Linked DNA regions of Homo sapiens. The protein of the gene in region 2 purifies or fractionates together with the protein of the main gene of each other region. This does not show direct contact. Each region holds a gene or a part of one and is shown on either strand. Other genes may lie near its edges.

Region 1 (3,819 bases), on a different chromosome or scaffold from region 2:
GTTTTTTGTTTTGTTTTGTTTTTTGTTCTTTGTGTGTGTGTGTATTTATTTATTTATTTAGAGACAGGGTCTTGCTCTAATGCCCAGGCTGGAGTGCAGTGGTGTGATCATAGCTCACTGCAACCTTGCACTCCTGGGCTCAAGCAATCCTCCCCCCAAGTAGTCTCCCAAGTAGCTAGGACTACAGGCTCAAACAATCAGCCATAATGCCTGGCTTTTTTTTTTTTTTTTTTTTACTTTTTTGTAGAGACAGAGTCTTGCTATGTTGCCCAGGCTAGGTCAAACTCTGACCTTCAAGCAATCCTCCCACCTCGGCCTCCCAAAGCATTGGGATTACAGGCATGAGCCACCACACCCAATCTGTTCTTCAGCTGTAATATCAGTTAAGTAGTAACCAAAGTTGGGAGATCTAAAAATAAATGTAGGGGAACATTCAATAGCTCAGTTTCACTACAGTGAAAGTTTCCTATAAAAAAAGAGTGAAAATAACACTGCTAATGCAAGTTAGCATTGTATCTTCCCCACACATGACCTGAAACTCTGATCATTAGTATCATCTTGGGATAGAAAATAAGAGTAACTATTCCTACAGGTTATTTTCAGGAAGTTACATTCAAATAAACACAGGAAAAGAAAGTAGGTCTCAGTTAAGAAGGCTCCTCTTTTCTTCATAAAATGTATAACTTTGAAAAGAAAAAGAAACTGACAGAGACCAGGAAACAGGCAAGCTTAAGAGGAAGGAGAGGAAAAAGTAATGAACTCTGGAAGAAAAAGCACGTAGAATACTGAAAGGAATGAATTGCTCTGTCCGTGAGCAATACATACTACAGCATAAAAAGAGATAGAAGGAAGGCCTTAGGCCGGGCGCGGTGGCTCACGCCTGTAATCCCAGCACTTTGGGAGGCCGAGGCAGGCGGATCACGAGATCAGGAGATCGAGACCATCCTGGCTAACACGGTGAAACCCCGTCTCTACTAAAAATACAAAAAATTAGCCGGGCGAGGTGGCGGGCGCCTGTAGTCCCAGCTACTCGGGAGGCTGAGGCAGGAGAATGGCGTGAACCCCAGGGGGCGGAGCCTGCAGTGAGCCGAGATTGCGCCACTGCACTCCAGCCTGGGCGACAGCGAGACTCCGTCTCAAAAAAAAAAAAAAGAAGGAAGGCCTTAAATTATGAGACACTCATTTGTAAGATGGCAGTTTGCCTGAGCTTTAGAAACAACCTTTATCCAGTTAAGACAAATTTAGAAGAGGGTCTTTCTCCCTGACTTTTTATCTCTACTGATCACATCTTTCTCTAAGACTCTTCTTCTCTTAAATGTTTTAAACAAAGAGAAAGAAAAAAACTTAAATAGAAAACTCCTAACAAAAAGAGCCCCACATTACAACTGAATTAAAAAGAAATTCACACTGTTCTCAAGAGAGGCAGTCTGGCTGTCTAATGAGAGGCCTCACAGAGTGGTGCTACCTGGTTGAACCATGTAGATCTGCCCTCTGTCTTGCAAATTAAGAAATCTGATTTGTAAAAATTCTGAAAATGAGCCTGTCTTTCATGGCTAGACTGACATTGATTAAGTTTATTCAGAATGATGTAGAAAACTAAAATGTCATGAAGGCATCTGAACACTTGAGTCCTCTGGACAGTGTATTCTTTATAAGTAGATAACATGGGGCATCAAATTATAAAAGAAAGTAGCTTGGGAATATGGGTAGAATCAGAATAAGGAAAGTTAATTATGTAATTTGAAGATTCTAAGGCATCAGGCTAAGATATCTAGAAAGAAAATTGTCCCAATAAGAGCTTTATTGGCTAGTAGGCCTCAAAATCAAGTCCTTGGGCCAAAGTGCACTCTCCTGTGTTTGGATGGACACAGTCAGCTTGCCTGTGTGACTCTCCTTTTTTTTTTTTTTTGGCTTTGTACTGCTGACCGGTCCCTCCTGCCGATTAACACGTTCTTCCTTCACTCATAAGAAATCAGTGGCATGGGTTTTAAAATAAGTATCTGAATCTCTGTTCCATTTTGTGTTTTTAAGACTCAGCTCTAAGAGGAAATTAGAATTTGTCTAATTTCCAAATTTTTCCCAATCCCTCTCCCTCCCTATTGATCCAACAACAACAACAAAAAATTCAGTAAGATGGGTACTATAGCTTACAACAAAAATATGACCACTGTTGCCATAAGTCTGATATAAGACAACACAAATTAGAACAGGAATAAAATTTTCAAAAGCTTCTTTTGTAAAGAACTGGACAACCAGATATTAAAAAGATTAGAAGGGAATACAAAACACTTTGGAAAGACAACAAAATGTGAAAAATCTGGTCAATAAACATTCTAATTCTGAAGTTTCCATATTATAAATTACGTTTACATGGTCAAAGGGGAAGGTGTCCTGACGAGCAAAATTGGGCTAGGTTTGTCTACTTCTCCATGTTTCCTCAAAGACCTACTTTAAAGTTACTTCTTCCACATTTCTTCTTCCATCCCCCAATCTTGAGTTTATTATTAAATAGCATCTTTTAACTTTAAATCAACAAGTAATTTTTAAAATAAATTACAGAGTAATTATTTAGTTATAAATGCAGAGTAAAAGATACATACCTGTCCTATTAAAAGGCCAGAGACAAAAGCCTTTCCTTGGAGATTTATGTTTGAAAGATACTGGCCAACAGTCTCTTCTACAATGTAGGTTCTTCCCATTTTTAGGAACTAAAATCTCCTATATCACAAGAAGAAAAGATACAGCATTTAGGTAAAATATCATTTGCAATGTCTTTATCATGGGAGTAGTTTAGCAAGAGAAGTGATACTATCCTGAGGCTATCTCATGCCTTGCAGCAAATACTTATTACATAGTGTATTCCTTCTTGCAAAGTTCAGATGCAGTTCCAGAGTTCTTCTCAATACAATGCAGCAGGAAACAACCACAAATCAACCAGAGTTGACATGAGAGATCAAACCTTTTACTCATACCTGGGATAAGGGAGAGGATACTAAACTAGTAAGCAACACACCAGATTTCTTTTTTTTTTTTTTTTTTTTGAGACGGAGTTTTGCTCTTGTCACCCAGGCTGGAGTGCAGTGGCGCAACCTCGGCACACTGTAACCTCTGCCTCCCAGGTTCAAGTGATTCTCCTGCCTCGGCCTCCTGAGTAGCTGGGGTTACAGGGGCTCACGACCATGCCCGGCTAATTTTTGTGTTTTTAGTAGAGACGGGGTTTCACCATGTTGGCCAGGCTGGTCTCGAACTCCTGACCTCAGGTGATCCGCCCGCCTCGGCCTCCAAAGTGCTGGGATTACAGGCGTGAGCCACCATGCCCAGCCAACACACCAGATTTCTTATTTTAGATCTACTCCCTAGTTGTATTATCTTTGATACTCTATTGCTAAGTCTTGGTGTTCTCATTGCTAAAATCGTAAACATGAATTTCTGAATAGTTCATTAGGAGGTAGAGTCAAATTCATTTACTTGATAAGCATATATGAAAGAACTATACTATTTGCTTAGAAACTATGCTAAGTGGGATAACACAAAGATGAGCAACACAATCTCTGTCCTTGAGCAATACATACTACAGTAAGAGTTATTTAAGTAGATAAATAGCAATACAATAACAACATATAGCTTCTACTTTGTACAACGCATTATTGTAAGTACTTTCCATGTAACATTAATAATTCATAAAACCCCAGGAAGTGGGTACCATTATTATAATCCTCATTTTATAGATGAAGAAACTGAAATGAGAAAAGTTGATTAAATAACTTGCCAAAGTGACAAAGCTGGGTAAGTGGCAAAGGAGGGACTTAAATTCAGACA
Region 2 (3,819 bases):
GTGAGACTTTGTCTAAAAAAAAAAAAGACACACACACAACGAAAAACAGAAACCTTTCACATGGATCATCTCATACAAATGCAAGCTTATCTATCAGATAAATTCCTAGAAGTGGAAGTTTGGATCGATAAGTGTGTAGTTTGGATAGATATTGCTATAGAGCCCCCAACAGAGGTTGACCTAATGCACATCAAAAATACAGGAAGTTACATGAGCAAATGACTGAGAGTCACTGCCTTCCTACATTCCTATGAGAATCATGTATTATAAGCCAAAGCAGTTTTGATTTTTGCAAATATCATAAGTGAAAAATTATTTCATATGTTTACCCAGTGAGTGAGAATGAGCACCCTTTTGTGAGTTATTTCCTTTTCTGTGAATTGATAATTCATGGGCTTTGTTAACATTTTTTTTACTTGGTTTCTATTTTATTTTATTTTATTTATTTTTTGAGACAGAGTCTCGCTCTGTAATCCTGGCTGGAGTGCAGTGGTCTGCTCTCACTCACTGCAACGTCTGCCTCCTGGGTTCAAGTGATTCTCGTGCCTCAGCCTCCTGAGTAGCTGGGATTAGAGGTGCACTCCACCACACCTGGCTAATTTTTTGAATTTTTAGAAGAGATGGAGTTTCACCATGGCCAGGCAGGTCTCAAACTCCTGGCCTCAATGATCTGCCTGCCTCGGCCTCCCAAAGTGCTGGGATTACAGGCGTGAGCCACCATGCCTGGCCAAAACTTTTTACTAGGTTTTTAGAATCTCCTTCTGATTCAAGGAGATCAGCTCTTTCTCTATGATATGAGTTTGTAAATATATATATATAACCATTTTGTCATTTCACATTATATAAGGAGCTTATCTTAATGTTTTTCCTCCAATTCCCATTGCCTGTCATACTTTCTGGCAGATAGGAAATGTTCAGAAAATGTTTGTGTTACGAACACCTTTATGGAGGAAAGAAGCTCCCCTGGCACAAAGAGGAGCCTCCAGGTCTGTGCTTTGGGCCTTATATTCAGTGCAGAGACCCAGGTCGACCACAGATATTAACACATCCCCCTTCATTCAACTGCCACAGCTCAGCTCAGAAAACCTGAGGCCAAGCAGGTACTGACCTGCGATGGAAATGCTGGCTGTCTTTTCCAGGCCGAGGAGGGAATTTCTGATGATGCAGGATACACCCTCCCCGGAGCCGCCTCTCATGATCACAGATGCTGCTACTTCATATAGGCCCACTCCATCTGCAACCACAGGTGCTTCCACAGCTGGGATGTTCTCTCCCTTGGCGTTGCTCCACTGTATTTGGGGTTGGGGGTACCAGCCGGTGGACCTGCACTCCAGATGGATCCCTCCATCCTCATAACCCTTCACTTCGACGTGAAGATTAGAACCCAGTGCTGTGGAAGGATAATTTGGCCTAAATTCTGGATAGCTCCTGTATTAGGGAGGGTCTCAATGGGAATCAATGTCAGGCTCAGATTTGATAATTCAAGAGATATTTCATTCAGGAGCTGTTTACAAAAGTGTGGTCATGATGAGGGGAAAACTAAATTTGCTAGTGCAGTATCCCAGGGTCAGAAACAGTGGGGCTATTCCCACCCACCCCAATTACCAGAGGGAGGAGGAGAGGAAGCTGTTTTGAACACAAAAAAGAAGAGATTCATGCATTGAGGACTTCCTTTAGAGGAGCTGTTACCTTCAGCAAGGCAATGCAGCCAGCCTGAGGGTAACTTGCAGTAAGGAAGCCAGTGAATAAGCACCCAGACTTCTTCCTTTTCTCTTCCTCCTATGATTGTCTGCTAGAGATCCCCTTAAACCAAACCTAACCAGCAGCCACAGGGCAAGGGATTGCACTGAGAAAGAGAAAAGCTGTCCCAACATATGGAAACTGACACCGGGTCTCTGTGTCATCCTGTTGAACATAAGCAATTTCACAGAACACAGACAATGGCACTTTGTGACTATGATGGATCATGGGAAAAACAATACCACCCCACATCATATGTGAGCATAGAGAAAAACATGAACATTGTCCAAACCACAGCAGTGACCAAACATCCCCCCTCAGCAATGAGGGATTGCTGCCCCTTCATCAATTACAGCTTTTGTCTCACCCTGGTCTCCTTCTTCCTACATAAGATTGATTAAGGCTCTCACTCAGAATTAACCTGCCCACACCTTCCTGATGGAATCTCATCCAGAGCAGAGGGCTAAGTCTATGAACTCCCCCGGCCCCAATCCCCTAACACAAGCCCAAATTGTATACCAAGTCTGCTCTAACACCTTCTTACTGAGACCCCGCCACAGCTCCCCATGATGTGTGTTCTTCCTCACTGCAACACGTAAGAAATACAGCTAGTTCTACTACAGGAGTATTCCTGGGGATGGCTAGTTGGAGAACACTGGCAGCAGATACAGTCACTATTCCACCTCCCAGGACCCATGGTAGTGTGCACTTGGAGACACAACAGAAGCCATCTGTTACACAACTAAACCAAAATGACTGTGTACCAGTCACTGAAGAGATGGTTTCTTATGCTTCCTATCCCTCGTCCTTCACTTCGCTTATATCTCTGGTGGCCAGAGGAAAGGAGTTCTTTACTTGAGCATGTAGGGTACAGCAGGAATTCTTCCTAAAGGAAAACCTGTGTCTTACTCAAGGGCCTCAGAGAAGCTAAGTTGGGAGGCAGTGCAGGCAATTGCTAGTGAGCAGCCAGGAGTGTCTGCAGTGCTTTTGCAAGAGGGACTCTGCATCTGCTCTAGATCCTACAGAGAAATGTTCTCAGAACAAAACCTGGAGGCTCACCTGCAACCTTCAGCTCCACCAGGGCTTTTTCATAGAAGTCACCATCTTGGAAATAACACAAGTACTTTCCACTGTCAGAGGCTGTGACGTTGTGTATTCGGAGAGCAGCCTTCCCTGCAGTGATGCCATCCCGCAGAATCGAAGTTCTCCCTCGATACGGTGCACTCTGCCTGTCTTCCACTTCCTTTCCATCTGCATACACGTTCACCACCTGCCTTAGGCTGGAACTTACCCACTTCAGCTCCATGGTCTCTGCACTCATGGTCGGGAACAGGTGACAGGGCAGATCAGCGTCTTCACCCACCATGGCCAGGATGGGCCCAGAGGGTCCAAGCACAGAAAACTGAGCTGTCAGCACAAGGGGGAAGCTCCATCAGAGGGTTTTGGAGTTGGGGTCATGAGAGGAAGGGTCCTTCTCAGACAGGGAAGGCGAGATACAGAGAACCTAGAGGGGAACACAATCCTAACAGAAGGACCATTTGTCTCTTTGTGACAGGTGATCCTTCAGGTTGGGATGGACTTCCAGGTATGGGAATGAGTTAAAGGTTCTAAGAGGGCATTTAGGTAATTGTCTGCTTAATTAGGTAATTGAGATAATTGTCTGCTTCAGAAACATAAATGTGGAATCATGGAATCATTCCCTACCTGAGCAAGGAGTGAGCAGCTGGACCAAGAGGAGGGAGACATGAAAGTTGAGCAGAAGGAAAGCCAGGGAACTTGCCATTTTCATCTATGCTGCATATCAAGAGATACCAGAAGGTGTGGGACAGACACTATGGCCTGGAAGAAGCTTTAGGATTCTGCATGGAAATGTCCACTTCCCCAGGGCTAACTCAAATATGGTGACCGAAGAAGATCTTACCTCTGCCAAAAATGTCTGTCCTTGAGTGTCTTTACCTTTGGGTTCCAGTATGGAAAACCATCTGTAAAAATAATATCTGTTATCTGATCAGGACATCTCTGACTCTACTGCATTAAAATATTAAAATATTCATAATCCTATCACTTCCCCACACTTCC

What was found.
Region 1: the proteins of BTN3A2 (region 2) and ODR4 purify together in Homo sapiens (affinity purification with mass spectrometry; one large-scale study listed by BioGRID and IntAct). This does not show direct contact.

Annotation. Positions count from the first base shown.
Region 1 is NC_000001.11:186,378,666-186,382,484, reverse strand, and holds part of ODR4 (protein odr-4 homolog), read right to left. Parts: intron 2,719-3,819; 5' UTR 2,700-2,718; coding exon 2,601-2,699; intron 1-2,600. UniProt on the Homo sapiens protein: May play a role in the trafficking of a subset of G-protein coupled receptors.
Region 2 is NC_000006.12:26,367,893-26,371,711, reverse strand, and holds part of BTN3A2 (butyrophilin subfamily 3 member A2 isoform a precursor), read right to left. Parts: intron 3,738-3,819; exon of another isoform or gene 3,723-3,737; 5' UTR 3,662-3,722; intron 3,535-3,661; 5' UTR 3,530-3,534; coding exon 3,445-3,529; intron 3,148-3,444; coding exon 2,800-3,147; intron 1,391-2,799; coding exon 1,109-1,390; intron 1-1,108. UniProt on the Homo sapiens protein: Plays a role in T-cell responses in the adaptive immune response. Inhibits the release of IFNG from activated T-cells.